Homo sapiens: one gene and its partners. The protein of the gene in region 1 purifies or fractionates together with the protein of each later gene. This does not show direct contact. Each region holds a gene or a part of one and is shown in the gene's direction. Other genes may lie near its edges.

What was found.
Region 2: the proteins of ETV1 (region 1) and DET1 purify together in Homo sapiens (affinity purification with mass spectrometry; 3 studies listed by BioGRID and IntAct, with this or other methods). This does not show direct contact.
Region 3: the proteins of ETV1 (region 1) and STK40 purify together in Homo sapiens (affinity purification with mass spectrometry; 3 studies listed by BioGRID and IntAct, with this or other methods). This does not show direct contact.

Annotation. Positions count from the first base shown.
Region 1 is NC_000007.14:13,888,918-13,897,935, reverse strand, and holds the end of ETV1 (ETS translocation variant 1), read left to right. Parts: intron 1-1,848; coding exon 1,849-2,070; 3' UTR 2,071-6,707; downstream 6,708-9,018. UniProt on the Homo sapiens protein: Transcriptional activator that binds to DNA sequences containing the consensus pentanucleotide 5'-CGGA[AT]-3'. Required for olfactory dopaminergic neuron differentiation; may directly activate expression of tyrosine hydroxylase (TH).
Region 2 is NC_000015.10:88,514,964-88,526,043, reverse strand, and holds part of DET1 (DET1 homolog), read left to right. Parts: intron 1-9,070; coding exon 9,071-9,262; intron 9,263-11,080. UniProt on the Homo sapiens protein: Component of the E3 ubiquitin ligase DCX DET1-COP1 complex, which is required for ubiquitination and subsequent degradation of target proteins. The complex is involved in JUN ubiquitination and degradation.
Region 3 is NC_000001.11:36,346,399-36,357,478, reverse strand, and holds part of STK40 (serine/threonine-protein kinase 40), read left to right. Parts: intron 1-2,045; coding exon 2,046-2,273; intron 2,274-3,062; coding exon 3,063-3,115; intron 3,116-8,663; coding exon 8,664-8,779; intron 8,780-11,080. UniProt on the Homo sapiens protein: May be a negative regulator of NF-kappa-B and p53-mediated gene transcription.

The DNA of each region.
Region 1 (9,018 bases):
TCAAAGGAAGTCCAGTACTTAAAGCAAATGTATCTTCCTCCACAGCCCCAAACAAAACAAAGCACATTATAAAACACTCAGAGGTATGCAGGCCATTTATTTTATTTTATTTTTTCTCCAAATACTTTGAACAAAGAAAAAAATAAAGGAAAACTAGGATTTACTATCTCAGCTTTGTTCCTGATAGTGCTATTTTTATGTTTATGGTCATTTCATCATTTCACCTTTAAGATCTTAATTTTCTTTGTATGAAGGACTAAAGTAAATAAATGTATGCCAGACTCCTCTGTTTCTGGCACAGTGCTCTGTGCTGGAGACTTCCATCCCAACCTTGCAATGGGCTTTCTGAGGCGCCATTCCTGTCTCCATTTCACAGCAAAGGCCACTGAGAGGTAGTCTAAGAAACAGGTCCAAATTCATAAAAACTACTAAATGTTCATTCTTTCAAACCTAGGTACATTCAGATTATTTGAATTCTCTAAAGTGGTTCCTCTTACTTAAATTCAGGGCAAAAGAAACAAAAAATGTTCTAAATTTGAATTCAGAGCAGCAGCATTCATTGACAATTGTTACTTTTCCCTCAAAGATATAACAATACTTTATAACCCAGGAACACACTGTTGCCCCACATCAAAAATCAACTAGCAAATGCCTTGTTGATATACAGGAACATGGAGGTGTTGTGTCACCTTCAGCTTTCTAAAATCTCATACCTTTACACACACCCATACAAAGTGACTATCAAAGTTAATAGAAAGAACTGTATTCATCCACCCATCCCCCCACCCCGGGTTTTGAGAGCATCTCAGCATTGTCTATTAACAAGAGGCGTATTCATCTCACTCAGTTGTTTATAATTTTCTAGGGAAGCATTACTCTTCAGAATTTAAGTTTGGGGTATGTCATACCCTATAAATTATGCTACTTCTTTATTCCAGGCAGTTGTCACATTTCTTTTTCTCATTTCCTCCCTGTGCATTGTGTATTTTAAATTCCTTTCACTTTTTTACACCTCTTACTTCAATTTGACACTTTACACACATCCTTAACTCTGTCTAATGCATCTTGCCTTCATTTTTAAAAGTGATGTACCCAGGATACTGTCCTTTTGATCCATCTTTCATTTAAATGAGGCTGTGTATCCTTTCTTTCTTTCTTTCTTTCTTTCTTTCTTTCTTTCTTTCTTTCTTTCCTTTCTTTCTTTTTCTTTTTCTTTCTCTCTCCTTTCTTTCTTTCTCTCTCTCTTTTCTTTCTTTCTTTATTTCTTTCCTTTCTTTCTTCTTTCAACACACACTGCCAAAAAAGAAAAAAAGTAAAGAATCCATTTATTCTGTGAATCAGTGAATTACTAGTCTAGTCTTATTGGGAATAAAGCACATTTTTCTTTTAAATTTTGAATTTAGTTTTTCTACCATTTCAGATATGTAATATTAAGAGGGACAGTGTACCTTAAAAGTACAGATTTGTAGATACTACCTTTTAAAATGCAGAAAAAAAGCTTTCAATATGAAATGCCTGCATTAAATAATTGACTTTTTTTCAAAACAACGATGTAAGTTTACCTCTATATTAAGACAAGCAAATTCCTGTGCTTCCTAGCTATATCTGGAATTAATTAATTATTATTCAAGGTCAACATTTTGCATCTCCCTTGACTGAACTGTAGTTTATTCCACAAAGTAAAGACTTTTTTTTTTTTATGTGTATCTGCTATTAGTTGTTTGCTTTTTTGGGCCAGAGTTACCCATCCTTTCCTGTATATTAAACCACGTTTTTGGCTTTTTCCTTCCTGTCCTTCCCCATCTGGCGATGGTGAGGATGGGTTTTTCTCTTCCATGTTATCATCAGGTGGCTGGAGAGAGATATGTCTACAAGTTTGTGTGTGATCCAGAAGCCCTTTTCTCCATGGCCTTTCCAGATAATCAGCGTCCACTGCTGAAGACAGACATGGAACGTCACATCAACGAGGAGGACACAGTGCCTCTTTCTCACTTTGATGAGAGCATGGCCTACATGCCGGAAGGGGGCTGCTGCAACCCCCACCCCTACAACGAAGGCTACGTGTATTAACACAAGTGACAGTCAAGCAGGGCGTTTTTGCGCTTTTCCTTTTTTCTGCAAGATACAGAGAATTGCTGAATCTTTGTTTTATTTCTGTTGTTTGTATTTTATTTTTAAATAATAATACACAAAAAGGGGCTTTTCCTGTTGCATTATTCTATGGTCTGCCATGGACTGTGCACTTTATTTGAGGGTGGGTGGGAGTAATCTAAACATTTATTCTGTGTAACAGGAAGCTAATGGGTGAATGGGCAGAGGGATTTGGGGATTACTTTTTACTTAGGCTTGGGATGGGGTCCTACAAGTTTTGAGTATGATGAAACTATATCATGTCTGTTTGATTTCATAACAACATAAGATAATGTTTATTTTATCGGGGTATCTATGGTACAGTTAATTTCACGTTGTGTAAATATCCACTTGGAGACTATTTGCCTTGGGCATTTTCCCCTGTCATTTATGAGTCTCTGCAGGTGTACAAAAAAACCCCAATCTACTGTAAATGGCAGTTTAATTGTTAGAAATGACTGTTTTTGCACCACTTGTAAAAAGGTATTTAGCGATTGCATTTGCTGTTTGTTGTTTTATTTTGCTTTATATATGACTTGCAGAGGATAACCATAAAATGGGTAATTCTCTCTGAAGTTGAATAATCACCATGACTGTAAATGAGGGGCACAATTTTGGACTCTGGCGCCAAACTGAGTCATAGGCCAGTAGCATTACGTGTATCTGGTGCCACCTTGCTGTTTAGATACAAATCATACCGTCTTTTAAATATTTTGAAGCCCATTTCAGTTAAATAATGACATGTCATGGTCCTTTGGAATCTTCATTTAAATGTTAAATCTGGAATCAAAATGAAGCAAAAAATATCTGTCTCCTTTTCACTTTCTTCAGTACATAAATACATTATTTAATCAATAAGAATTAACTGTACTAAATCATGTATTATGCTGTTCTAGTTACAGCAAACACTCTTTAAGAAAAATATCCAATACACTAAATAGGTACTATAGTAATTTTTAGACATGGTACCCATTGATATGCATTTAAACCTTTTACTGCTGTGTTATGTTGATAACATATATAAATATTAGATAATGCTAATGCTTCTGCTGCTGTCTTTTCTGTAATATTCTCTTTCATGCTGAATTTACTATGACCATTTATAAGCAGTGCAGTTAACTACAGATAGCATTTCAGGACAAAATAGATGACTCAAACCATTTATTGCTTAAAAAATAGCTTACGCCATGCTATGCTATAAGCAGCTTTTATGCACATTGACAAATGAAGAGTAAGCTTCAGCTTGCTAAAGGAAACTGTGGAACCTTTTGTAACTTTTGGTGATATGGAAAATTATTTACAAACCGTCAAAGAATATGAGGAAGTTGCTGTATGACATAGTGCTGGCACTGATATTATCCATCATCTCTTTTTGGACACTTCTGTAAATGTGATTGGATTGTTTGAAAGAAGATTTAAAGTTTCAAAGTTTTTTGTTCTGTTTTTGCTTTGCATTTGGAGAAAATATTGAAAGCAGGGTATGTTGTTTCATTCACCTTGAAAAAACCATGAGTAAATGGGGATATAGAATCTCTGAATAGCTCGCTAAAAGATTCAAGCAAGGGACATGAATTTTGTTCCATCTATCAATAATATCCAGAAGAACAACTTTTTTAAAGAGTCTATAGCAAAAAGCAAAAAAAAAAAAAAATTCTAAACACAAAGTCAAAATAAACCTATTGTAAAAGCATTTCGTGATGAGCATGAAAAAGATTGTTTAAAGATGATCCCCCCAGCTACCCATTTTCCAAAACTACACAGATCACAGCTCATTTCTCTAAGTGGAGCAGTTATCAAGAAACCCAAACACCAAAATTGCTACTCTTCACATTTAATCCTACAAAAAGTACTCCAATTTCAAAATATGTATGTAACCTGCGATTTCAATGATTGTTGTTCATATACATCATGTATTATTTTGGCCCATTTTGGGCCTAAAAAAGAAAACTATGCCTTAAAAATCAGAACCTTTTCTCCCCACTATGCTTATGTGGCCATCTACAGCACTTAGAATAAAAACAGATGTTAAAATATTCAGTGAAAGTTTTATTGGAAAAAGGAATTGAGATATATAATTGAGATTTGGTGAAATTGAAGGAGAAAATTTAAGTGAGTCTTTAAAATATATTCTGAATGAAAACTGTATTGAGGATTCATTTTTGTTCCTTTTTTTTCTTTTTCTCTTTTCTCCTTTTTCTTCTTTTTAATAGTCTAGTTTTAGTCAGTCAGTGAGGAAGAATTGGGCCATGCTAACGTTATCACAAGAGAACAATGGCAGAAATGGTATTAGTTATATAATATTTAAGGACAAACTATATGTTTTGCTGTTTTAACGTAGTGACTCACTGAACTAAATACATAATTGACCAACATTAAGTGTATTTCCAATACAGAAGGGTTGAAAATATTACATTATAAACTCTTTTGAAAAATGTATCTAAAATTTTTTAAGTTCTGTTTTGATTCCACTTTTTGGTTGAGTTTTTATGTTTTTGTTTTCAGGTAGATTAATAAATCTGGCAGCTGATTTCTGCAAGATTCTTGTGTTTTGAATTTCTCATTGAATTGGCTACTCAAACATAGAAATCATTTGTTAATGATGTAATGTCTTCTCTCAGCTTTTATCTTCACTGCTGTTTGCTGTCTCTTGATGATGACATGTTAATACCCAATAGATTAATTGCAACAAACACTTATACTCAAATAACTAAGTAAAAATAATTTTTCTTGTTATGTCCATGAAAAGTGCTTCAGAATAAAAATCCACAAGACTGACAGTGCAGAACATTTTTCTCAAATCATGGGCGGATCTTGGAGGTCTAGTTTCCCGTAGATGCTGTAACCAATTACCACAACTTCAGTAATTTACACAAATTTATCTTATAGTTCTGGAGGCAGAAGTTCAAAAGAAGCCTTAAGAGACTAAAACCAAGATGTCCTTAGGTCTGGTTCCTTCTGGAGGCTCCAGGGGAGATTCTTCCAGCTTTCACTTCTAGAGTCTGCTGACATTCCTTGGCTCCTGGCTACATCACTTCAATCTCTGCTTCCATGGTCACATACTCTTCTACTATAGTCAAATTTCCTTCCTGCCTCTTATAAGGATGCTTGTGATTACATTTAGGGGATGCTCAGATAATCCAGGACAATCTCTCCATCTCAAGATCCTTAACTTAATGACGTGTGCCAAGTCCCTTTGGCTAGATAATTATTCATAGGTCCCAGGGATTAGGACATGGATGTAAGGGGTGAGGGCAGGGCTGTTATTCAGAACACCGCACGGAGGAGGAAGACTGTGTAGCAAAGACTCTAATTGATTTACTCAGGAACAGTGGAGTTCTGCTGAGGGATCTAGGATTTGAAAGTACTAGAGTTTGCTTTTATTTACCACTGAGATATTTTCCCCTTATTCTGCATAAATAATTTTGAAAACTTTCTATATTAAATTTCAACTATTCCACTAAAATGTCTGGTAATCACATCAAGCCTTTAGATTATTCAAATCCTTCCCCAGCCCCCAGGAAAACACTAAGTCATGAAACAGAAAAACAGAAGGTATGATAATAATAGTAATAACAGTTAAATCAGTGGTCTAATCCAGATTTTATTTTTTAATACATTTCTTTTGGTGTTAATATGGGTTACTATGTGATCTTATCATTTGCTAGTGATTATTACTTATTAGGTAAGAACAATGTGTAAAATATGTCTATTACTCAAAAGAACAATTGCAAAATGAGTCAACTTATCTTTATATAACCAGGAAAGAAATATATTGCCAGAAGCTACAGAATTTTGCCAGATGATAGGGATTTCTAAAATGAGCCACTTTGTCTATCATGCAGCCTTTTCAGAGCTTGTAATGAGAAAACATTACAGAGGAGAAGGTCATTTGGATGTTTGTTACTTGGAATCCTAGAAAACAAAAACTAAAATTTAAAAATAAGAAGTGAGTAAGCTATTTTCCATTTGCGATTTGGTATGGAGAAGAGAGGAAATAGAATTATTAAAAAAATACAAATTGGGTAAAAGTGATGGTGGAAAAAATATAAAGAAGGCAAATGTACATATTAAGCAATTCTACTAAGAATTGGAAAAATCAAGTTTCAAAAAGATGGTAATAGTTGGGCATGATACTAGAAAATTTCACCCAGTTTATTCAGAGCTCAACTAGTACTTTTAGGACTTCTTTTTTTATATACATGAGACTCACTTTGACATACTTAAAAAAAAAACAGTTTATGGAAAGTACAGTTTAAGAGGAGAATTTGATTAGACTAAGTGGATATCTTTATAGAAATATTAATGATTTCAGAATTTTCAGTTACAAGTGTATATACCGTGGCTATTGTTTATGGATTCATATGTAAGGTAGGGTCTTTTTTGCATATAGACTCCAGTATTAGTTACTTTCATTCTAAAATTATATTTATGCTTCTATGGGGAAGAAAATTTTTAATTCACTTGGTTGTATTAAAATTATACTTACGGTTTGAGAAAACATGCTATGAAAATCATGATTATAGCAAATTAAATATGCTCAAAATTTAAATCTAAAATAAAAGCCCAGAAACTGAAAATATTGGACTGTCGTGATCACTCTGAAAGGTAGCACATCTAAAACTGATAAACGTCATCTAAATTTTTGACTGTCTTCTAATCATCGTGTCATTTTTAATAGTTTATGACCACAGCACTCAAGTAATGTGTTTGCACTACTTTGCCATATATTATTCTTTTAGATAATTTAGATACCAGGACACCTGATAAATCCTTTTTGAGTTCTACGTTCTAATCTCTGTAAATATCTTGTTTCACATAAATCCTTCAATAAATGTATCATGGAGAAATTTGGGGAAGGGAACTAACTAAATTATTTCAGTGACTCCCACATGCCAGACAGCACAGATATGTGAATTATGTTACTGCCTCCAAATTGCTTGGTTTTGTCTGGTGAGAAACTGAAGCTAATGGCAAAACCAGTATGTCTTGGTGTCAAGATGTCGTGGTCACAGGCAAATCATGAACCCTACCTTTTGGGGAACTTGGACCTAGCTACTTTTCTGATTTAATTTCTAATGACAAAAATATCTATAATAATAACAGATTCTGCTGAAACACGGTGTTATTTAATTTTTTTTCTTTTTTGAATATTCCTTGTAGAAAAATCTAAAAAGAAATCAAGCACTATTTAAACAACAGCAACAATAAACTGAGTTGTTTTTTAAGTGTTTTTAAGCATTCAGAAATCAAACTGATTGAAGTACCTCTTTGTTTCTTTCCATTGGAGATGGGTACAGCTTAATGAAGAAACAGAAATACTAATCAAACTCTTCAGAAAGTTATATACACTGTCCCCATAATTTATATTATTAGACAGGACTTCTGAAAGTAATAGAATTTTCGGGAAACTTTTAAAGCATGGAAGATTCAAGTCAAATGATTCAGAAAAAGCCAAAAAATTGTTTTTAAAATAGAAAGTAAGACTAAAGGCCGGGCGCGGTGGCTCACGCCTGTAATCCCAGCACTTTGGGAGGCTGAGGCAGGCAGATTACGAGGTCAGGAGATTGAGACCATCTTGGCTAACATGGTGAAACCCCGTCTCTAGTAAAAATACAAAAAATTAGCTGGACATGGTGGCGGGCACCTGTAGTCCCTGCTACTCGGGAGGCTGAGGCAGGAGAATGGCGTGAACCCGGGAGGCGGAGCTTGCAGTGAGCCGAGATGGTGCCACTGCACTCCAGCCTGGGCGACAGGGCGAGACTCTGTCTCAAAAAAAAAAGAAAGAAAGAAAGAAAGAAAGTAAGTAAGACTAGAAACATAGAAATTATTGTATGAAAGAGTACTGTTTTAAATGACATTTCTGCAAAGGGGACTATGGCATTCTTGTACACATTTAAGTAACATTAAAATTATTTGTCTTATAGAAAGTTTAATGTGGGAATTTAATTGGCAATGTTGGTGGGAAGAAAAAAATTAAGATTACACATGTGACATTACTTTTTTTATTTTTATTTTTCTTTGAGACAGGATCTCACTCAGTCACCCAGGCTGCAGTTTCATGCGAACACGGCTTACTGCAGCCTTTACCTCCTCCCAGGCTCAAGCGATCCTCCCACCTTAGCCTCCCATGTAGCTGGGACCACAGGTGTGCACCACTATTCCCAGCTAATGTCTCTGTTTTTTTATAGAGGTGAGGTCTCACAACTTTTTTGACTGTTTTTTGTTTTTTTTGTAGAGATGGGGTATCCCCATGTTCTTATGTTGCCCAGGCTGGTCTTGAACTCCTGGACTCAATTAATCCTCCTGACTTGGCCTCCCAAAGCGCTGGGATTACAGGTGTGAGCCACCATGCCTGGCCATTACTTTTTAAACTGCAAAATACTATTCTACTTTCAGTGACCACAGAACTACTTTTCTTTATTCTTAAAAATATTTGCAAACATTACGTTCTTTAAACAAATATTTTTATACTTAAAAAAACTGCAGTAAAATGTATATGAAATACTACTCATCATTTTAACCAGTTTTAAGTGTACAATTCAGTGTCATTAATTACATTCACAGTGTTGTGCAACCATCACCATTATCTATTTCCAAAGTGTTTAGATTTTTTTATTCATAAAGTATTATCAAAAATGGTCAAGGAGACCAGGTGCAGTGGCTCATGCTTGTAACCCCAGCAATTTGGGAGGCTGAGTCTGGTGAATCGCCTGATGTCAGGAATTAGAGACCAATTTGTCCAAAATGGCAAAACCCTGTCTCTACTAAAAACACAAAAATCAGCCTGGCATGATAATCGGCACCTGTAATCTTAGCTACTCAGGAGGCTGAGGCAGGAGAATCACGTGAACCCAGGAGGCAGAGGTTGCAGTTAGCTGAGATTGCACC
Region 2 (11,080 bases), on another chromosome or scaffold:
TTTTCATTTTGGGATGAATTTTCTTTTAAAATTTGCTTCAAAATTAAGCAGATAATTAACAAGTAACAGTCTGAGTGTGGTGGCTCATGCCTGTAATCCCAACACTTTGGAAGTCCAAGCCAGGTGGATTGCTTGAGTCCAAGTTTCAAGACCAGCCTAGGAAACATGACAAAACCCTATCTTTACAAAAAATGCAAAAAAAAAAAAAAAAAAAAATAGCCGAGTGTGGTGGTGCATGCCTGTAGTCCCAGCTACTAGGGAGGCTGAGGTGGGAGGATCACTTGAGCCTGGGAGGCAAAGGTTGTAATGAGCCATGAGCATGCCACTGCACTCCAGCCTGGGTGACAGAGCAAGACCCTGCCTCAAAAACAAAAAACAAAAAGAACAAAAGATGGGTACACTCACTCAAAACATCAAAGAAGTCACTAGATGATAAGCTCCATGAGGGCAGGGATTTTGTCTGTTATGTCTACTGCCATATCCACAACACCAAGGCCAGTGTCTGCCCTGTGGGAGGAGCTCTGTAGGTATTTGCTGAATGAATGAAGTTATCCAGGAATTAGAAGGAACTCTGTTTTCCAAAAATTATTTCAGAATACATCTGGAATTAAACAAAATTACAGAAAGCTCCAGAAAAAACTGAGGAGAAAGGTTGTATATTCCAGCTCAGTGATCTTCAGAATTTTACTGTACCACCAAAAGATTTTGAAAAATTGGGGGTACCCTCACATATTTTTAAGTCGATTTTTAAATTTTTTTTTCCTGTTACTACTAAATTTAAGCAGTTGCAGAGGATGCTATTTTCAGTGGATATTAAACATTGATACTTAAAGTTATTCCAACACTTTAAAATATAACAAAAGGATGCTAATTACCGTAGTAATTTGGTATTCAAGTATTTTATATGAAAAATTCACAGCAAATTATACCCATAATTGGGAATTTTACATTGTTTCTTCTGATTCTCAAATTTATATGTCTCTTCTGTCTCCCCAACAGAATTGTATGCTAACATATTTTGTTGACCACTAATCATACTTTGCTACATTGAAAATATAATGTATATATACATTGAAAAATTTTTTTTTAATAGTATTTATTGATCATTCTTGGGTGTTTCTTGGAGAGGGGGATTTGGCAGGGTCATAGGACAATAGTGGAGGGAAGGTCAGCAGATAAACATGTGAACAAGGGTCTCTGGTTTTCCTAGGCAGAGGACCCTGTGGCCTTCCGCAGTGTTTGTGTCCCTGGGTACTTGAGATTAGGGAGTGGTGATGACTCTTAAGGAGCATGCTGCCTTCAAGCATCTGTTTAACAAAGCACATCTTGCACCGCCCTTAATCCATTTAACCCTGAGTGGACACAGCACATGATTCAGAGAGCACAGGGTTGGGGGTAAGGTCACAGATCAACAGGATAAGAATTTTTCTTAGTACAGAACAAAATGGAGTCTCCCATGTCTACCTCTTTCCACACAGACACAGTAACAATCTGATCTCTCTTTCTTTTCCCCACATTTCCCCCTTTTCTATTCGACAAAACCGCCATCGTCATCATGGCCCATTCTCAATGAGCTGTTGGGTACTCCTCCCAGATGGGGTGGCGGCTGGGCAGAGGGGCTCCTCACTTCCCAGACGGGGCAGCCGGGCAGAGGCGCCCCCCACCTCCCGGACGGGGCGGTGGCCAGGCAGGGGCTGCCCCCCACCTCTTGGACTGGGCAGCTGCTGGGCGGAGACGCTCCTCACTTCCCAGATGGGGCGGCTGCCAGGCGGAGGGGCTCCTCACTTCTCAGATGGGGCGGCCAGGCAGAGATGCTCCTCACCTCCCAGACGGGCTGGCGGTGGGGCAGAGACACTCCTCAGTTCCCAGACGGGGTCGCGGCCGGACAGAGGCGCTCCTTACATCCCCGACGGGGCGGCCGGGCAGAGGCACTCCTCACATCCCAGATGGGGCGGCGGGGCAGAAGCGCTCCCCACATCTCAGACGATGGGCGGCCGGGCAGAGACGCTCCTCACTTCCTAGATGTGATGGCGGCTGGGAAGAGGCGCTCCTCACTTCCTAGATGGGATGGCGGCCGGGTGGAGACGCTCCTCACTTTCCAGACTGGGCAGCCGGGCAGAGGGGCTCCTCACATCCCAGACGATGGGCGGCCAGGCAGAGACGCTCCTCACTTCCCAGACGGGGTGGCGGCCGGGCAGAGGCTGCAATCTCGGCACTTTGGGAGGCCAAGGCAGGCGGCTGGGAGGTGGAGGTTGTAGCGAGCGGAGATCACGCCACTGCACTCCAGCCTGGGCAAGATTGAGCACTGAGTGAGCGAGACTCTGTCTGCAATCCCAGCACCTCGGGAGGCCGAGGCGGGCAGATCACTCGCGGTCAGGAGCTGGAGACCAGCCCGGCCAACACAGCAAAACCCCGTCTCTGCCAAAAAATACAAAAACCAGTCAGGCGTGGCGGTGCGCGCCTGCAATCCCAGGCACTCGGTAGACTGAGGCAGGAGAATCAGGCAGGGAGGTTGCAGTGAGCCGAGATGGCGGCAGTACAGTTCAGCCTCGGCTTGGCATCAGAGGGAGACTGTGTAAAGGGGAGAAGAGGGAGAGGGAGACCGTGGAAAGGGGAGACAAGAGTGAGAGGGAGCTGAAATTTTTTTTTAATTCTTGTGAACACATGGTTCTAAATGCTAAATTTTATAGTAATCTTTTCCCAGCAATCTTTTGGTAAAAATCAATGAAATTGGGACCCTTATAGGTCAAAATAAATGTTCAAGAATAAAAATGGTCACCAAGGATCATGAGTCATTTCAGGAAAGCCTTTATCCTAAAAGTGACCAACACAAAACAAACAGAATAAAGAATAAAGAGTAAGGAAACAGGTCTGGCATGGTGGCTTATGCCTTTTATCCCAGCACTTTGGGAGGTTGGCGTGGACTGATCGCTTGAGCTCAGGAGTTCAAGACCAGCCTGGGTAACATGGCTGGTCTCCGAAAAAACAAAAAAATTAGCTGGGTGTGGTGGCATGCGCCTGTCGGCTCAGCTACTTGGAGGGGCTGAGGCAGGAAGATTGCTTGAGCCTGGAAGGCGGAGGTTGCAGTGAACCGAGATCAAGCTACTGCATTCCAGAGTAGGTGACAAAGTAAGACCCTATCTCAAAAAAAAAAAAAGAAGAAGAAAAAAAAAACAATGTTACATTCGCTGAATCAATTGAAAGTATAAAAACAGGAACATTCCAGCCGGGTGCGCGGTGGCTCATGCCTGTAATCCCAGCACTTTGGGAAGCTGAGGCAGGCGGATCATGAGGTCAGGAGATGGAGACCATCCTGGCTACCATGGTGAAACCCCGTCTCTTCTAAATAAAAAAAAATACAAAAAAAATTAGCCGTGTGTGATGGCGGGCGCCTGTAGTCCCAGCTACTCGGGAGGCTGAGACAGGAGAATGGCGTGAACCCAGGAGGCGGAGCTTGCAGTGAGCCGAATTTGCGCCACTGCACTGCAGCCTGGGTACAGAACGAGACTCCAACTCAAAAAAAAAAAAAAACCAGGAACATTCCTAGAACAATGAGAAACTTTTGGAAATTTAAAATGTGTTAGATGTAGTGGAGGAACTCTCCAAAAAAGTAGAGTAAATAGATAAGAGAAGGGACCTAGAAGAGAAACATTTAAAAAAAAAATAGAGTACCTGCCTAGGAGGCCAAATATCTGTCTAATTCCTGAAGAAGCAGTGGAGAACACAAAGTGGAGAAATAATGGGATAGATTCCCAGGACTGAAGAACATGAATTTTTAGATTGGCAGGACCATCCAGTTCTGGAGCTGGCTTGTCCTGGCTCATGAGATCTGACTGTTAAACTTTCAGGAATTTTTGCAAGCTGATTGTTAAACAAAGTCGTTATTAAAACTTATTTCCAAATTATTTCCGATTTTACTGTTACTTAGGCTCTTGTGGTTTTTGCATCTATTTTATCTATATGGTGTAAATACTATATAATAAGGTGCTACAGCTCTTCTCTTGGCAACTGCACATTGAGTAATGTCACATTGGTACCTTGGCAGGAAGATTTACACCACAGAAAGCAGGAAGCACTACAAATCATGGCTTTTTTCCCCCAAGAAAAATTAAACCTTTATCAGCGCACCACTGGATTCATCTAGTATCCAGTACAGTCAATGAAAAAGACCCACACACAGAGGCATATCATCATGAAATTTTGGAACATTGGTGATAAAGAGAACATTGTGAAAACTTTGAGAAAGAACATACATTTCACATGTAAAAACAATAAGTCATCATAATGACATCAGACATCAATAATACTGAAAGCTTGAAGTCATTAAAATCATGCCCTCAGAATTCTATGAAAAGGGTGATTTGCAATTTAGAATTCTATATCCAAATAATAGGGTGGAATGGAGACATTTTCAAACCTGTGAAGTCTGAAAAGATTACCTCTCATGTACCTTTTCTAAGGAAGCCTATGGAGATGTACTTCAATAGACCACAAAAGAATGGTATGTAGGAAATAGTCTGACACTGGAGAGAGGCAAAGAGAGTCTTGAGGATAATGATAAAGGGAATTTGCAGAATGACTGTCCACCTGTCAGACCATTTGGAAGCACGAAAGTGGAGGAGTCCAAGAAAAGTGTGTCCAAGGAAAAAACAAAATTGTTAGAATACTGGTAGGTTTGAGTATATTAAGAAGAGATTGCCAGTTTTCCTAGTAGAGTTGTCAGCATAGGCTTCACTGAGGAGGTGGTGGTTGAGAAAGCTTTTGAAGGAAGTCAGGGAGCAAGCCATGTGGATAGCAGGAAGAAGAATATACCCAGCAAAAGGAATAGCATATCTAAAGGCCCTGAGGTAGATCTGATGCATTTGAGGGACAACAAGAAGGCCAGGGTGGCTGGACTGGAGTGAGCGAGGGGCAGAGTACTTGGAAATAGGGTCAGAGACCTGATTTGGGGTGGGGAGGTAGGCAGATACATAAGGCCATTCTATGGCTTTGGCTTTAACTATAGATGAGGTAGATTGTGTCATGTTTGAGCAGAGGAGTGATGTAGTCTCACTTATGTTTTAACAGAGTCACTCTGGCTGTTCTGTTAAGAGTAGAATGTAGGCAGGTAGGGTGGCAGCAGGGATACCAGTTAAGAGACTATTGCAGTGATCCAGTAAGTAATAGCTATGGCATTCTGTTTCCTGCCACTAGGATTTAAGTTCTTTACTGTCAACTGATGTATCCTAAGCACCTAGAAGAGTGTCTGGCACATACCAAGTCCTCTGTGATTGATTATTTGTTGTTTAACAGTGGTGGCTTGGATCAGAGTGGTAGCATTGGGAATAGTAAGTAATTATATTTTCAATGTATTTTGCAGGTTAGAGCCCAATTGATTAATGGAGGATGGTCTATGGGCCATGAAAGAACAAAGTCAAAGATAATTCTAATGTTTCTGGATTGAACAGCTTGCAAGAGAGAGTTGCCATTAAACTGTAAACCTGTGGGTAGAGCAGGTTTAGGGGAGAAGATCAAAAGTTCTGTAAGTAGAGATATCTCATAGTTTCTCAAAGGAGTGTTAGCTGTGTCACAGCCACCTGACGAGTCAAGTACAATAGGGACTGAAAATTAACTTATTGGAGTTAGCAATGTGCAGGTCATTGGTGACCTTGACAAGAGTAGTTTGAGTGAGATAGTAGGGGTGAAAGCCTCTTTAGGGTGGGTTTAAGAAAGAATGGGAGGAGAAAAGTTGGACAGTATGGAAAAGAGTTTTGAGGAGTTTTATTACAATGGGAGCTGAAAAGTGGTGCATTAGCTGGAGGGGTAGGTAGTGTTAGATTTTGTTTTTGTTATTTTTTAGATGAGAGGGAAAAAATGGCATGTTTGCATACAGATGGGACTGATCCTGTAGAGAAGGGGAAACAGTTTAGGAAAGTGGAAGAACTGCTTAAGTGTATGAGAGGGGTTGGGTGCTAGTGCACTGGCAGAGGGATTTGCCTTGCATGGGAGCGCAGAAAGTTATATATGTACAAATGTTGGGTAGATGTGCTGATGGGGGCTTTAAAAAAGTTATCTTCTGCTAACTTCCATTTGTTAGTAACAAAGTAAGCGATGCCATTGGCTAAGAGTGAGCATGGAGGAGGGGAGATGAAATAGTCATGAAAGAGCATGGGAGTCTGGAAGGACTATGGAAATGCAGCATGAGTGCCCTGCAGCATTAAGGGCCCACATAAAGTTCATGGCCATAAGTTTAAAGTGAGCATTGTATGTTTTTTCTACAGCCATGGAGAAAACCAAGTAGTACAGGCACGGAATAGGAAGAGTTGAGCTTAACTGGAGGCTGTAGTTTTTCTAAGCAAGTACCACAAAGCAAGAGAATTTAAGATTGTTGAGGATGTGTGCAACGGAGTGATTTAGTAATTTCATCTATGTGGAAGGAAGGAAGAGAGGATATGATGAGTGTAGGATGGGAAGAAGTTGGTAGAATCAGTGGATTATAGGTCCTGTGGGGGTTAAAGGATTGCTGAAGTTGGGATGAATAGAGGGAGTGAGCTGGAAAGATGGGAGAGAAGATGGTTGGAGAGCGTGACGGTCTACCCTGTGACTAGAGAGGGTTTGCAGTCGTTGGTAATGGTGAGGTTGAGGGTGTGACTGTGGAATAAGCAGTTGAGGTTGAGAGGAGGTCAAGGAACTAGCAGGAGGCTATGGTGCTGTAAAGAACCTTTCTGAGGATTTTGAAATTACCGAGAACTAAGAGAGGTATAGCTGGACAGAGTGACACTGGGGCAGGAACTAAAGTGTGAAGACATCGAAGAGAGTGACTGCTTTTAATCAGTGGGGAGCATGGAGAGTGGAGGTGGTAGGTGCTGTGGAGGAAGAGGAACTGTTTCAACTTGTAGATTATCACAGATGCTTTGATTTGTGGTCATCACAAAGCTGTGAGCCAGCCCCCATCATTTTACCTTTGAAAGCCAGGGAGTCGGTGAGTCAGGCAGGGCTAAGGTGTAGATGAGATGGTGCCAGGTCTTGCTGAAAACCGAAGTGCCCAGGATCTTTTATTTCAGCTCAAATGAAAGGGAAAAAATAAGCTCTATTTGGCCCAAGATTTATTTTTATGATTTATACTGAGGCTGTGAAAATTACTGTCAGTAGGAGTAATGGAAAAGCAGTGTTGCTTGCTAGGCTTTCTTTAGGGGGAGCAGAAAAGTGTTCATGTCCATCTAATACCATAGGTTAATAGTGAAAATAAAAATTACCCCCAACTAATTAATCTTTGTGGTCTCATGAAAGTTAGGAACACTGAAGTTTTTTATTCCATTTGTTTCAGGGATGAGATATTATACTTTTCTCCCAGACTAAAAAAAATTGATATCCCCTTGATTGTTGAACCATATGATATGCTTGAATATAGAGGTTTAAAAAATATATACTGATAGACAGTTGACATTCTTTCTAAGAAGCTGTAGGATAGTGAAAAATAAGGAAAAAATTCAAAATGTCATTATACAACTATTAACATTTTAATGTGTTTCTGCCAGTCTTTGCTTTAAGTGTGAGTTTTTGTTTTCTTTGTGTTTTTAGCCATATTATATAGACAGTATTGTATCCTACTTCTTTTATTTGTAAATGTGATAAACATTTCCCCTGTTACCATATAATCTTTGAAAATGGTAGTTTTCCATTAGCTTTTTAATTTTTTCTTCCTCTATAAACAATGCTGTATGAATGTACACAGAGATTTTTCTGCATGTAGGAGTGATTCCTTAGGGTAAATTTCCAGAAGAATAGAAGTACTTGTCAAAGAGTATTAAATTTAGTTTTGTGGCCAGGCACTGTGTCTCATGCCTGTAATCCCAGCACTTTGGAAGGCTGAGGTGGGTGGATCGCTTGAGGCCAGGAGTTGAAGACCAGTCTGGGCAACATGGCGAGACCCTGTCTCTACAAAAAAAAAAAAAAAAATTAGCTGGGTGTGGTGGCACGCACCTGTCGTCCTGGCTACTTGGGAAGCTGAGGTAGGAGGATTGCTTGAGCCCAGGAGAGGTGGAGGTTGCAGTAAGCTGGGGTTGTGCCACTGCCCTCCAGCCTGGGCAACACAGTGAGACCCTGTCTCAAAAAATAAAAATAAAATAAAATTTAGCATTTGTGACAGTGATGAGAAATAACTGTTCTGTTATTATTTTCAAAGATAAGTCAGATATATGACTCTATGTATGTTACTATTCTTCTAGATACTGGTGTCTCTGCAGGAATATAGGTAGCTAGTTTCCAAATTTTATTTAAACAAACAAAGAATGCGTAATTTATTTGTGAAAGGCTTGCTAGAAGTTGGTGATCCCAAGAAGAGTCAGAGGCTGCTTCTGTTCAGGGTTCTCTGTAACTCCTTCCTAATTCAGTCTAAGGCAATTATTTGGGGAAAATAAGTTCTTGACCTTTTTCCCCAGTTGAGCTGTTATTAGAAAAGAGTAGAAATAGTTGCCATAAACTAGTTATACTCATTTTAAACTTGTTTGTAGAGTCTTTGTTAACTTTTCTAAAGTAGGGCCGGGTGTGGTGGCTCATATCTGTAATCCTAGCATTTTGGGAGGCCAAGGCGGGCAGATCAGTTGAACCCAGGAGTTCAAGACCAGCCTGAGCAACATGGCAAAATCCCATCTCTATAAAAAATACAAAAATTAGCTGGGTGTGGTGGCACGTGCCTGTAGTCCCACCTACTCTGGGGGCTGAGGTGGGAGGAACACTTGAGCCTGGGAGGTCAAGGCTGCAGTGAGCTGAGATCACACCACTGTACTCCAGCCTGGGCAACAAAGCGAGACCCTGTCTCAAAAAAAAAAAAAAAAAAACCCAAAACCCAAACACATTTCTAAAGTAATTTGTTGTTTTCCATTTTTAGTTATATGTTTTGCTTTTTAAAAGTATTTGTAGCTGGCCAGACTTGTAATGTGTGAGAGACAGTTCTATCTTAATTCATTACCTAGGTTTTAATTTGTATTTAAAGAATGAGTTGTTCTTAGACATATATTTGTCAATTTAAAATTCAAGACAGCTTTGTGTACTCACTAACAAAGCCTTCCTCACCGGTCCTTTCATTTAGGTTCAAAGACACTATTATAAATGCCAAGTATGGAGGGCACACAGAGGCAGTACGCCGGCTGCTGGGTCAGCTCCCCATCAGTGCTCAGTCTTACAGCGGTAGCCCCTATCTGGATTTGTCTCTCTTCAGTTATGATGACAAGTGGGTATCTGTCATGGAGCGGCCCAAGACTTGTGGAGATCACCCAATCAGGTACAGTGTCACTGCTATAGCTACAAACTGCTCAAGGGCTGAAGATGGCCTGCTTTCTTTTTCTCTTTTTCTGGACATCATTTGATTGTGACTGTGACTCGTACTCATGGGTAAGGTTGAAAAGGCAGGCTATTTCTATAATGCAGTGAGAGCTGTGATCATTTAGGTGCTAGTCTCCTAAATTATTCCTACTCTTTGCTTCTCATCAGAACATCTAATTCAGATAAGTGTTGTCCTCTTTTAAAGGTATCCAGGGGAGGAAGCTGTACTTTCCCATTTAATAATCTAATACCATTCCATAATAGTTTTTGACATTGAGACTTTATAATTATGTATCTAACACAAATTATTTTATCCCGCCATGTTACCTCATAGAAAAAATAGCAGAGACAATTTGGGGACCTGCTGACAGATTTAGAAGAAACTCATGCTTCCTCACTTGGAGGAATTTTGGAATGTAGACTACTGTGTTATTGTTAGAAGTTTGAAACTGACGTCTTACAAGAAATTCTTTCCTCACAGAAGTCTAGTTCACAGACCCAACTGTCACTACATATATGGAGCCTGTTCTGTGTGCTGTAATAATATTAGGGGGAGGAGCTGGAATTATTGTCACTAGTGGAGTTATCTCAAGGGGGGTGTGTTCCTGAGGCTATAGGCTGGAGCTTGGAAGGTCTTTTTCACACAGAAACAGTGGTAGTTAGATCTTTATGATAGATATATTTCATCATCCAGTCTCATTGTGTATTAAATGTGCCTGTGTGACATAGTCTGTATAATTAATCACCATTTATAATATTTCCTTTGGGAAATTAGAGTCAAGTTCCAAAAACTAGTTAATATTTTTTTTATTATGGAAAGTTTTAAACGTATACAAAAAGTAGAAGAGCATAATAAACCTTCATGTACCCATCACCCACTTCAACAGTTACCAGCTCGTGGCCACTCCTGTTTCAGCTATTTCCATCACGACCCCTACTCCCTCCCCTTCCCACCACTGTCCTGGGTTATTTTAAAGGAAATCCAAGCTATCCTAGCAAAACAAGTAACACCATTACCCCATCTTTAAAAAATTAACAAAAAATCTTTAATATCTTCAAATATCTAGTCAGTTTTTATGTATCCCTGTTGTCTTATAAATATTCTTTTTATAGTTAATTTGTTTGCATCAGATTCAAACAAGGTTCATGCATTGCATTTGGTCCCTTCGGTCTTTTTTTTTTTTTTTTTTTTTTTTTTTTATAAGACGGAGTCTCTGTCTGTTGCCCAGGCTCGAGTGCAATGGCACGATCTCGACTCACTGCAACCTCTGCCTCCCAGGATCAAGCAATTCTCCTGCCTCAGCTTCCCAAGTAGCTGGGATTACAGGCGCCCACCACCACACCTGGCTAATTTTTGTATTTTTGTAGAGACGGGGTTTCACCATGTTGGCCAGGCTGGCCTCGAAATCTTGACCTCAGGTGATCCACCCACCTCAGCCTCCCAAAGTGCTGGGATTACAGGCTTGAGCCACCGTGCCTGGCCAGTCATTTTTATTCTGTAGGTTCTTCTTTCCCCTTTTATTTTCTTTGCAATGAAATTATTGAGGAAACCAGGTTGTTTTTCCTCTAGCATTCTCCAAATTCTAGACTTTGCTTGTTACATCCCTGGGATAGTATTTACTGTATTTCTTATTTACCCATATGTCCTGTAAAGCGGGAATGAGATTTAGAAGGTCAAACAACCCATTTTAAATTATAATCCCTTTGTGTTTGGGGATTGTGGGAGTAAGGCTATGTGTTTTTTATACATAAAAAAGATGGGCCTTATCTGATATGA
Region 3 (11,080 bases), on another chromosome or scaffold:
GCACTGAAGTTGTATCTCCAGAAATGAAGAGTTGGGTTCAGAATGACTGGGAGGCCTCCTTCACAGGCTTGGGAACAGCCCCATTCCTCAGCTGAGCATCCACTGAGCCCTCAGCCGTTTGCTGGCCAGGACCAGCTCTTGCTAAGACAGACCTGCTGTTTGAGAGGCACACAGTGCCAGAGAGAGCAGTCACATTTTGATGCTGACAGTCCTGGATTCAGCTAGTATGACCTTGGGCAAGTCACTTAAGGTCTCTAGGCCTCAGATTCCCCATCTATAAAATGGGGATAGTGATAACAGTACCTACCTCCATTGGTGGTTGGGACGATGAATGAGATTGTGTCAAGCACTGAGCTGCTGCTGGAACACTGTCATCATCATTGCTGTTCAGGCATAAAAACTCCTTGTCAGCTTGAGTTCCTAAAATAAAACAAAGGGAAAACACTTCCCATCCCCATGTATACACCCCAGCAAGGTCTTTGTTCTTAGATTTGCAATTAGAGGTGACTCAGAGTATTTTTAGGCAACTCCAAAAATTAGAGTATCCCCATAAACATGAAATCAAATTGAGGGTGATTGTGGTTTCTTGGTATTTTGTCTGTGATATCTTCAGAAGCTTGGCCTTAGTTCATGTCATTTTGGATGAGAGAACCTGGGTGATCAGAAGTGTTTCTAGTGTACTGTTTGTGTGCCAGACACTGTGCTAGGAAAAGCAAATATGAGGTGTGGTCCTGCTCTTAAGAAGAAATGTGGAGGCCGGGCGAGGTAGCTTATGCCTGTAAACCCAGCACTTTGGGAGGCTAAGGCGGGCGGATCATGAGGTCAGGAGATTGAGACCATACTGGCTAACACGGTGAAACCCCATCTCTACTAAAAGTACAAAAAATTAGCCGGGCATGGTGGTGGGCACCTGTATTCCCAGCTACTCGGGAGGCTGAGGCAGGAGAATGGCATGAACCTGGGAGGCAGAGCTTGCAGTGAGCCGAGAGCGTGACACTGCACTCCAGCCTGGGCAACAGAGTGAGACTCCGTCTCACAAAAAAAAAAAAAAAAAAAAAAAGAAAAAGAAGAAATGTGGATATTCAGTCCTTCAGGAGTTCCCCAGAGGGGACAGTCAGTCTACCCCGCATGACACCAAGGACTTCCTCAAGCTGGTCAGATGAAGTCCCCCTGTTTTTTGTCTTACTCGAAATACCTTTCAGCAAGGAAAATGGGTCTAGAGTTTGCTACCATTGTGTCCATCTCGCAGCCACAACATTGGTGGCAGTACCCACTTACTGAGCCCTGGCAGTGCATGACCTAAGCACAGGACATGGATTGTCTTATTTACTTCTCTTGGGCTGTGGGGGAAAGATTACTAGCTCCCTTTTACCGATGAGGAACTAGAGACCTGGAGAGGGTAAGCAGACTGCCCCAGGTCCCACAGCTAAGACAAGGTGGCTGGGGCCTGAACCCAGCAGTCTGAGGTCAGAGTCACTCTTAGCCATCATGTGACTGTCGGGAGTACTGCATCCCGACAGTCCTCTTTTCTGAGAAAAGAGGAAAGCAGGAAGGCACTTGAGGAAAACAGGTGTCCTGGATACACAGAACCTGTATGGCCTCTGGAGCCTGCCAAGATTGACCTCTTTCTAACTTCCGCCATCTTAGATATCAAAAGGGGGTTCTGTTGGTGATTACTGGAATCTGGGTGCCATGGATTCCCATTTTTGCTGCTTGAGCACTGGGCTAAGAGGGCCCTTGGGCTCTAAATGCCCAGACCTGATCTGAATCCTTTGCATTATGATCAAAGCATTAAGCCTTCACCTGAGATGTTTTAGCTTCAGCCTCTTGCTGGTCCTGGCATTTGGCACACAAGAGGCTGCACAGTGCTGACCTGCCCCATGGTCTAGGCTGCCCAGGCCTCAGTCCTCTCTGGCCCGCACATGCAGGCTAATTCCAGGCTCCCTCACTGGTTTGAGTGTCCCACTCCAGAGGAGAGTCCCAGGCCCTGGCCTTGGCCCTGCCAAGTTCACAGCCAAGCCCTGCGCTACCCCCTTGCCTCCCAGGACCGCACCTGTGAAATCGTTGAGGACACAGAATCCAGCCGGATGGTTAAGAAGATGAAGAAGCGCATCTGCCTCGTCCTGGACTGCCTCTGTGCTCATGACTTCAGCGATAAGACCGCTGACCTCATCAACCTGCAGCACTACGTCATCAAGGAGAAGAGGCTCAGCGAGAGGGAGACTGTGGTAATCTTCTACGACGTGGTCCGCGTGGTGGAGGCCCTGCACCAGGTGAGGCCACACCCTGCTGCTGCGCCTTCTGGCCACAGAAAGCCACCTTTCTTGCTGCTGCTGAGCAGAAGGCAGCTCTGTCCTGTGCACCCAGGTGTGCTTTGCAGCTGGGAGTGTCCAAAAGAAGAGTGACTGAATGGCAGGTGCACAGGGTGAGGCACAGTGCCACCCTGCAGGCCACCTTCCTGGTGAGGGCTGACCTGCAGCCCAGCTGTGGTAATTACCACAGCCAACTGTGTTAATTCCCCATCAGTTAAGAGGCCTGGTGTCCACCCCCATGTAGTGATGACAGTGAGATACCCACCCAAGCAACTACAGCACATCTGAGCTTTTTGTAGGATTAGAGGTGTCAGGCACGCTGGGACAAAGGATAGGAGAGCCTGAGCCTCTTCCCGGTGTGCCGCTTCTGTGGGCCGAGCCTGTGGTACTTAGTCACAAAGCCATGACAGCTCCTCCCCGACCCCCAGATCCATCCTGTCCATGGAATGTCTAATGGAGGGGAAAAAATGAGTGACTTTCGCCACCAGCCACTGCCCTGAGGGGAGAAAGAGCTAAAGAAGCTGCCACAGATGGGGAGACACTGACTAGGTGCACATTCATTCCCCATCCAGACGCGCAGGTCACGCGAACTTAGAACTGTCCTGATCTGCCTGTGCTTGGAGCCTAAAGAGACACATCATAGAATTTTTCCTGCCTTCTCGAACACCTGGAGAGCCCCCATCTTACAGGGTGGGCCCTGACCCCACCTCTCACATTGACAATGTAAACCATACGCCTGTTGTTTTACAGAAAAATATCGTGCACAGAGACCTGAAGCTGGGGAACATGGTGCTCAACAAGAGGTAAGATCCCTGTCTCTACATCCATACAGTTACCCCGGGGCTGGGGCAGGCTACACATTGCAACTCTCCAGTGCCCTGAAGTGTCCTCATGAGGATTCCGACTCAAAACAACCCACTTCCTCCAGGAATCCCAGGGCTCGGGATGGGATGAACATGGGAATTGGGGGCTTGCTGAGACTGGGAGTTTTGAGCCACAGAAAGGGAGCTCTGGGAAGAACTTTAGATCTCCCTTGTCCATTTATTTGTCACACCTGGCTCCTAGTGGGTACTCATAAAATTACTATAAAAATGGACTAAATGGTCAGGTGCGGTGGCTCCCGCCTGTAATCCCAGCACTTTGGGAGGCTGAGGCGGGAGGATCACTTGAGCCCAGGAGTTTGAGACCAGCCTGGGCAACATAATGAAGACCCCATCTCTACAAAAATATATATATTTTTTGAATGGACAAATGGGGTGAAGGAACGAGCAAAATGATGCCTTGCCATAGGTCAATTTCCTCAGGAAACAGACTCTGAGGTTTACGTGCAGAAGGTTTACTGTGAAGTGCTCTCAGGGTGAGGGGGTGGAATTAGGCAGAGGGAGAAGCTGAACCGCAGTGAAGTCCCAGCAGGGCCTCAGCCTGAAAAACTCGAGAGTGGGATGGCCTGCAGATGGCCCGCGCTTGGCCTTTGTGCCCCCACAGCAATCAGTCACTGAATGTCTGCTGTCCTTAGGGAGGGGCATTCTCTTAGGCAAGGCAGCTTCTTTTGGCTAAGAGGGCCTCCTGGAGAGGGATGCAGCTGTGAGTGGTTACCTGTAAAATGCCACCAGCTCTCTCAGCAGCAAGGAGAGCATGCCTTAGACTTGGAGGGGATCTGGCGGCCCACCCTTGTTGGGGTGAACCAGCAGCAGAGGGACACCAAGCACGGCCCTGGTTTCAGGTTGTCATCCCGCCTCGACAGAGGGTCCTGGGCCTCTTTGGAGTGATCTGGGACAGTGCTACCACTGTCTCACCATGTTAGAGGGACCACCAACCATGTAGGAACCCAGGACCAGCAGGAAGTGGGCCCACTCTGTGGGCTACCATGATCCTTGAAATGCAGGGCTGAGAAGGGCACATCTCCCCCACTCCGCCCCCACCCATTATTTCTGAGCTCCCCTCTGTCACCTCTCAACTCGGCATTGAGCAGGTTGAAGGGCTTACAAAGGCAGCCTGAATCTCACAGCAGAAGTGTTGTGGTGGGTGATTCATTCCATGATGTGGCCAGCCCAGCCCAGGAAGGGCCCGAGGCCCACTGTCCTCTAAAGAGGCCAAAGCCACAGTGGTCAGAGGAAAAGAAGCTGCCTGGAGGTTGGCCTCCGGGGAGGGGGCATTGCCTTGTGCCCCATCTCAACTGATGGGGAATTACTGCTGGGGGTTCCAGATCCCATAGCTCCAGCCTGAGAGGCCATCGGGACGATGCTGTGCACCTCAGCTGCTAAGCATTCTCCATCCTTCGACTAGCACCACCTGGTGCTGGGGCTGCAGACAGAAACGCTCAGTGGTTCCCACTACCCTCTGGAGCCCACCATCTGATGGTGTACTGACCAGAAGATGGTATCATGTGTGGAGGACTGGCGTGCAGAGGGCAAGGGACATGTGGAGGGACAGTGGCTGCCACCTGAGTCAATTCGTGAAGGATGAGTTGGGATTTGCCAGGCTGAGAAAGTGAAGGGATGAGAACCTTGCCCTGCTATGCTCTGCAGGGGGAAGGGAGGGAAACAGGAAATTCCAGAGCTGCTTGAACCCTGGACTGGCTGAGTGAGTGAGTTGAGGAGGACGGAAGCAGCACTGACATGGGGGTCAGACCTGGCTCACTTCCCAGTGCCACTTCTTCGTTATCTTGGAGACCGTGAGAGTGTGGTCCTCTGGGTACTTACTGATTGAATTCATATATTGAGGTACCAAGCACTTCTCTGAGCTTCCATTTCCTCATCTGTGAAAGTGAAGGTCATCCTGGCTTCCTGGGAAGATTGGCCTGAGATGCAAATCAGTGGGTGTGAGGCTGCGTAATATGATGGGGTTTGGCGCATCACGGGCACACCCCAGTGCTAATGTAGCCAGGACTGGAGAGCCTGTCGCTGAGAGACAGGAGAACAGGACCCATGGGCTCACATCTCTGGAGATGAGGCCTGCTGCATGTTGAGTGGCCAACGAGGACACCCCTGGTGAGGGCCCAGCGGTCCCCCAGCCATAGCTCTGCATCATGAGAGGAGGTGGTGGGGAGCCCCGAGCAAACCAGCCCTGGGCTGTGGAGAGCCAGTTGTCATAAAGTTGGGAAATTGGGTCCTGCCCCTTCCCCTGGCCCTCTCTGGGGCCTTGGGCCAGTCCCATCCTGCTGTGGACTACAGGCTTACTGTTCACAAAGAGAGAGCATATTTTTTGGGCACCTAAATCCATCTGGCTGCAGAGCCCATGTGCCCTCCAGCTGGACTAGAGAGCTCCCAGACCTTCCACAGCAGCCATTCATTGGCTGTAAATGAACATCCCAGGGTTGTCATGGGAACTTGCCGGGCTCATGCCTGCTAACCACACCAGCACTCCTGGCCCTTTGTGTCACTGGGGGATTTGCTTCCAACTCTCACTTCCCCAGGGCCCCTTGGTCCTGGGAGTGTAGTCGAGGGGTCGCACCTCCCTGCATACGCCGGCGTGGCTGTAGCAGCTCTGCTGTGAGTGTGAGTGCGTGCTCCTCAGGGTGCAGAATGCCAATGCCTCACTCATACCCAGTGTCCTGGTTGTACTTCCTGAATCTGATAAATCCCCCTTTTTGTGTCTCAGGGCAGACAGAGGTTCTGGCTGCCTTTTACTTGAGTCATGGGCGCTCCAGAGTGGCAGGGTAGTGTGGTGCAGAGAGACTCACTGCTCCGTGTGTGTCCTCTGGCACACCCTCCGCTCTGGGGCCCCACTCTCACCTCGTTCAGTTGACCTGAAGGAGCTCCAGCCCACTCCAGCCCCTTCCCACCCATCATGCCAGGCTATAACTCCACTGGAGCAGTAGGCGGACCAGCTGGAGGCCTTCTCAGCAGAGCAGAGAGCTCTCAAGGAGCAGACAGGGGGAGGTGTTGGCAAGGCAGCTGCAACAACAAGTTCACCCCGCTTTGGATTTTAAAAGGATCGAAATTCGAAATCCTCTTCTGGGGTTATGTGAGGTGCTGTGGGGTCTTTTTCCTTCCTCCTTTCTTTTTGGTAGGCAAGCAACATACCAAGTTCCTAGAAAAGGAGAAAAACACTGTGGCAGCCCAGAGGGCCATAGCTAAAGCGTGACTCACTCAGAGCCGATCCTACTGACACACGTCCCCTCCCTCCGTCCCACTCTGCCATTGCCCCCTCCTGTCAGGACCAGACTAGGGGGTCTGGGACTCCCGGGGAGCCATGCACCCCCCACTTGGGTGGTGGTGGCAGGGCAGGGGAGTGTTGCCAAACCTCAGGAGGACTTGGAGCTGCCCGTGCCACTTCCTGTGGAGAGACTCCAGTGCGCCTGCCGCTCAGCCCTGCAGAGCCTCAGCTGTGCCTGCCCGTGCCCTGGCAGAGGGTGGGAAAGTCCCACCAGCAGTGTTGAGTTGAAAGCTCAGCCACACTGGCATGTGCTCTCCGGGGCCTGTTGTCACACCATGGCACCTCTCCCCTACCGCCTCCAAGACAGAGTCTTTTCCTACCAGGTGTGCCAACCATCGGAGATGAGAGGACACCAGCTTCTACTATTTGCCAGGCATTGGGCTAAGTGCCCTCCATGAGATTATCTTATCTTGCTGAATCCTAACCCAGTTCTGGAGTTTGGTGCTGGGATTTCACTGTTGTACGCATGAGGAAATTGAGGTTTAGCAAGAGATTCACAGAGCAAGGAAGTGGCAGAGCCAGGACTAGGAACCTGGCTCCCAAACCCACCGTACTTTCTCCTGAGCTGTCCTCCTCTCAGCGTCTTGAGCCTCAGAGACCCACAGGATGCATTTGCAGCTTCCGCGGCCATCTCTGACCAGGGGAGAAAACCCACAGTGCCTCTGCTCTGTGGGAACCTTCTGGACAAGAGGCCCGAGCAGCCCCATATTCAGGGCAGCGGCACTGGAGCTTCAGAGCTAGAGCAGCCCACTCCTTGACGTGCAAGTGACCCTTTGCAGTGACCCTTCACCTGTGCGATCAGGCTCTAGCCGCCTGCGGGCCACCAGTCAGACTCCTATGGCAGCTGACAGGGCGGACCTGTATAGGCGCTGGAGTTGGCGTTTCCGTGGGGAATCCAGAGGACGGGCTGGCCTTTGTTTTGCATCGAGCCCTTTGCCAGCAGAATTCCCCGAGATCACCGAGGGCTCTCAGAGCCGCCTGGATGCGGCTCCCGGGGAAATCCGCCAGCAGCCACACATGCCCTCTGCCTCTGAGAGCTGATTGTAGGGAGAGGCAGCCCAAGGCCCCCATGGAGCTCTCCTTCCTGTTGTCCTCCCAGCTTCTCCCCCTAGCTTCTCCACCCAGCCAGCCGACACAGGAGCAGGGCAGTTGGGTAGAGAGGCATCCTTCCTCACTGCCTGCCCCAGTGGGCCAGGAAACCTTTCCCAGGCCTCTTAGACAGGGCCTGCCCACCCTCCCAGCCCCCAGTGTGGTGTAAGGTGTAAGGGTCCTCTCGGGGCACTTCCTTTTGTCCACATGTGAGTTTTCTCCAAAGGATCAGAGCCCAAAGCTGCCCTGCCCCACGCCTTTCAGAGGGAGGGTCTGTGATGTTCTAGCCAGGGCAGAGTCACAAGTACGAGGTAAGGGATGAGTCAGCTTTGATGGAACAGAAGGAAAAGTCATTCGGGGCCTGGGGCCCTGCCCAGGGACACATCTGGGCATGAGGCAGCTGTCAGTTGTGTGTGCAGCTCTGGGGCCCTGCAGACCTGGTCTTGGATCCTGCTCTTCTGCTCACCAGCTGCATGACCTTGGCCAAGTCCTTTCACTTCCCTGTGCCTTTGTTGTATCATCTGAAACAGGACCGTGAGAAAATCCCCCTCATTGGCCACTGTCAGTTTCTTCCTCTGCAGTGGTTGTGGGGCCAAGTGAGAACTGACATATTCCGTGGTTCGGAGGTGGCTCGGGGCCAGCCCTTGGGTCACCTTCCAAGGTGGAGTCACTCACCTCTGCTGGACTTCCTTTTCCTCATGTGTGAATGAGGAAATTGAACTAAATCTCAGGTCACTCCCAGTCTAGAATATTACGTGAGGCTGTTTTTGAGAAATCTCTGAAAGTTGTTCTAAGCCCTAAGCTGTACCCCGAGATTCAGCCCGGGCAGCAGGTCCAGGGATGGCCTGTGCAACACTCAGATACCTGGGAGAGAAGCCGATCCCTGCTGGGACAGCTCGGCTGGTGGCCAGAAAAGTCTGGGGCCTGATTCCTCTGCTCTGCTCCCTGGAGAGGGGGTCGGGGCAGCTGCTTCACCCTCTGACGAGAAGCCTACCTCCTACTGTTCAGGATTGGGTGTTGGCCCAGTGAGGTGTGTCCTGCCTGCGTGTCTTGTGCCTGTTGCTATAGACACTGAGGTTTGTTCACTCTGTCTCCCACTCCTAGGACACATCGGATAACCATCACCAACTTCTGCCTCGGGAAGCATCTGGTGAGCGAGGGGGACCTGCTGAAGGACCAGAGAGGGAGCCCTGCCTACATCAGTCCCGACGTGCTCAGCGGTACGTGTGTGTGCCAGACATTGGGCCTCTAAGCTCAATACAGCCAGGCTCTGTGACAGTCCACTCAGCAAATTTGTGGGCAGGCCCTGGGCAAGGTGCTGGGGCTTCACTGGGGGCCCAGACCAGTACTGTCCCTCCCCATACAAAATGTTTGGTCTGTTGGAGGTGGAAGACGTAATGATAACATGAATGCATGTTTAATTCCTCTGAGGTTAGTGCTAGGGAGGAACGGGATTGCTGTGAGAGTGGATGAAGGGTGCTTGGAGGACTTTCCCCACAAGGTGTGACAGTTGAGCTATGATCTTAAGGGAAACTAGGAATTCCCTGGGTATGTGTGACTAGGCTGAGGCTGAGGGTCCCAGAGGCAGCACAGCACGTTGGAGCAATTGCAGGCTGCTCAGAAAGTGAGCCTGGTTCAAGGGGAAGCCAGAGAGGTGCGCAGGGGCCAGATCAGGCAAGGCCTGACATAGGCCTCAGTAAGAGATGTCATCCTTTACTTCAAGTGCGAGTGGAAGCCATTGAACAGTTCTTAACTGAGTGTGCTGCTGTGAGTTTGTGTTTCAGAGCCCTCTCTCCTTGTCTGTGTTCATTCATTCTGTTACTGTTTGCTGAGGGCCACCCAGGCCCAAAGCTCTGTTCTAGACACTTTGGAGACAACAGGGAACAAAGTAGACAAACATTGCTGCCTTCATGGAGCTGACTTTCTAGTGGGGATGAGACAGATAATACACGAAACAAATAAGTAACTCACAGGCCGGGTGCAGTGGCTCATGCCTGTAATCCCAACACTTTGGGAGGCTGTGGCGGGATCATAAGGTCAGGAGTTCGAGACCAGCCTGGCCAATATGGTGAAACCCTGTCTCTACTAAAAATACAGAAATTAGCCGGGCGTGGTGGCGGTTGCCTGTAATCCAAGCTACTCAGGAGGCTAAGGCAGGAGAATCGCTTGAACCCAGGAGGTGGAGGTTGCAGTGAGCCGAGATTGTGCCACTGCACTCCAGCCTGGGCAACAGAGCGAGACTCCATCTCAAAAAAAAAAAAAGAAAAAAAAAAACTCATAAAGTTACTGCCCACTGATCTGATTTCCAAGTTCCAGACACTGTGCTGAGCGTGACTCGCGTTATCTGTTTAAACCACACAGCTACCCTGTGAGGCCAATATCTATCTTAAGTCCTTTTTTCACAGATGAGGAAATTGAGGCTCAGAGAGATGACATCTCTTGTCCAAAGTCGTAGCTAATAAATAGTAAACTGGAAAATGGAGGCGCAGCCCCAGGGCTGCCTCCCACTAAAGCCCATTCTCGCAACTCTTTCACTGTCGACTCTGTTGCTTTCTCTTTCCCCCTTGTCCTTGGCCCAAATCCTTTAGGGAACCGGGGCTTACACCAGCTCCCATCCCTCCAACATGGAGAACTTGGGGTTGTCTCCAAGATCCTTCATCCCCACCCCACACATGAGTGCGCCCTTTCCGTGCAGTGGCCGAGCCAGCCTCGTCCCAGCTCTTCACACACATCCTGGTGAGCAGGCTGCTGTAATACAAGCACTTACAACTCCCTCGGAGGCTCCCCCAGCTGCCGCTTCTGCTGGAGAGCCAGGCCTGTCCCCAGGGCTGCCCGTGTGCAAAGACAGTAGCACCATTCCCCAGACCTGGGGGTTTTGGTTAGAGTCACTACAGCCTCTGCTAGAGGGAACTGGGTGCCAGGGGTATACCCTAACTCCTGGGGCACCACCCCCATGGCCCAGCACAGTCTGGCACCCTCTACAGTAATCCCCAAAGCATCCCCATAGGAGATAGAGCCAGGCTCCTCCTTCCACCCAGCCTGTGAGTGGGGCTGTGCCTGTTTGCAGGGCTCAGGCTGTGGGCTAGCCCTGGATGGGACTCCTCTCTTGCAGCACCAGCCTAGAGTGGCCTTCATTTGCAGTCTGAGGCTCTGTGGCCCTCCCTGCTGTTGCCAGCAGCCTATCCTTCTGGTTCTTCCAGACTCGTGCCAGTCTTGGAGGATGAAACAAAGGAATCTGACTGAATCAGAGAGAATCCTCGACTGGGAGACCAGAGACCTGGGTTCTCATTCTGGCCTTGCTGTTGAACCAGCTGTGTGATCACGGCCTCCAATCTCCTTCTGACTTCAGCCTCCTCCCTCCTGGGTTAGAAGCTGAAGTACCAGCCCTACCATGTGGGTTTCCGACCCAGGTCTGCCCTTTCATTTATTCTCCATGTGCCCAGCATGGGCATGGGGCATGGAGCTGTGAAAAGGCAGGCCTGGTCTGGCCCTCATGGAGGTGATAGTCTGGCTAATAACCA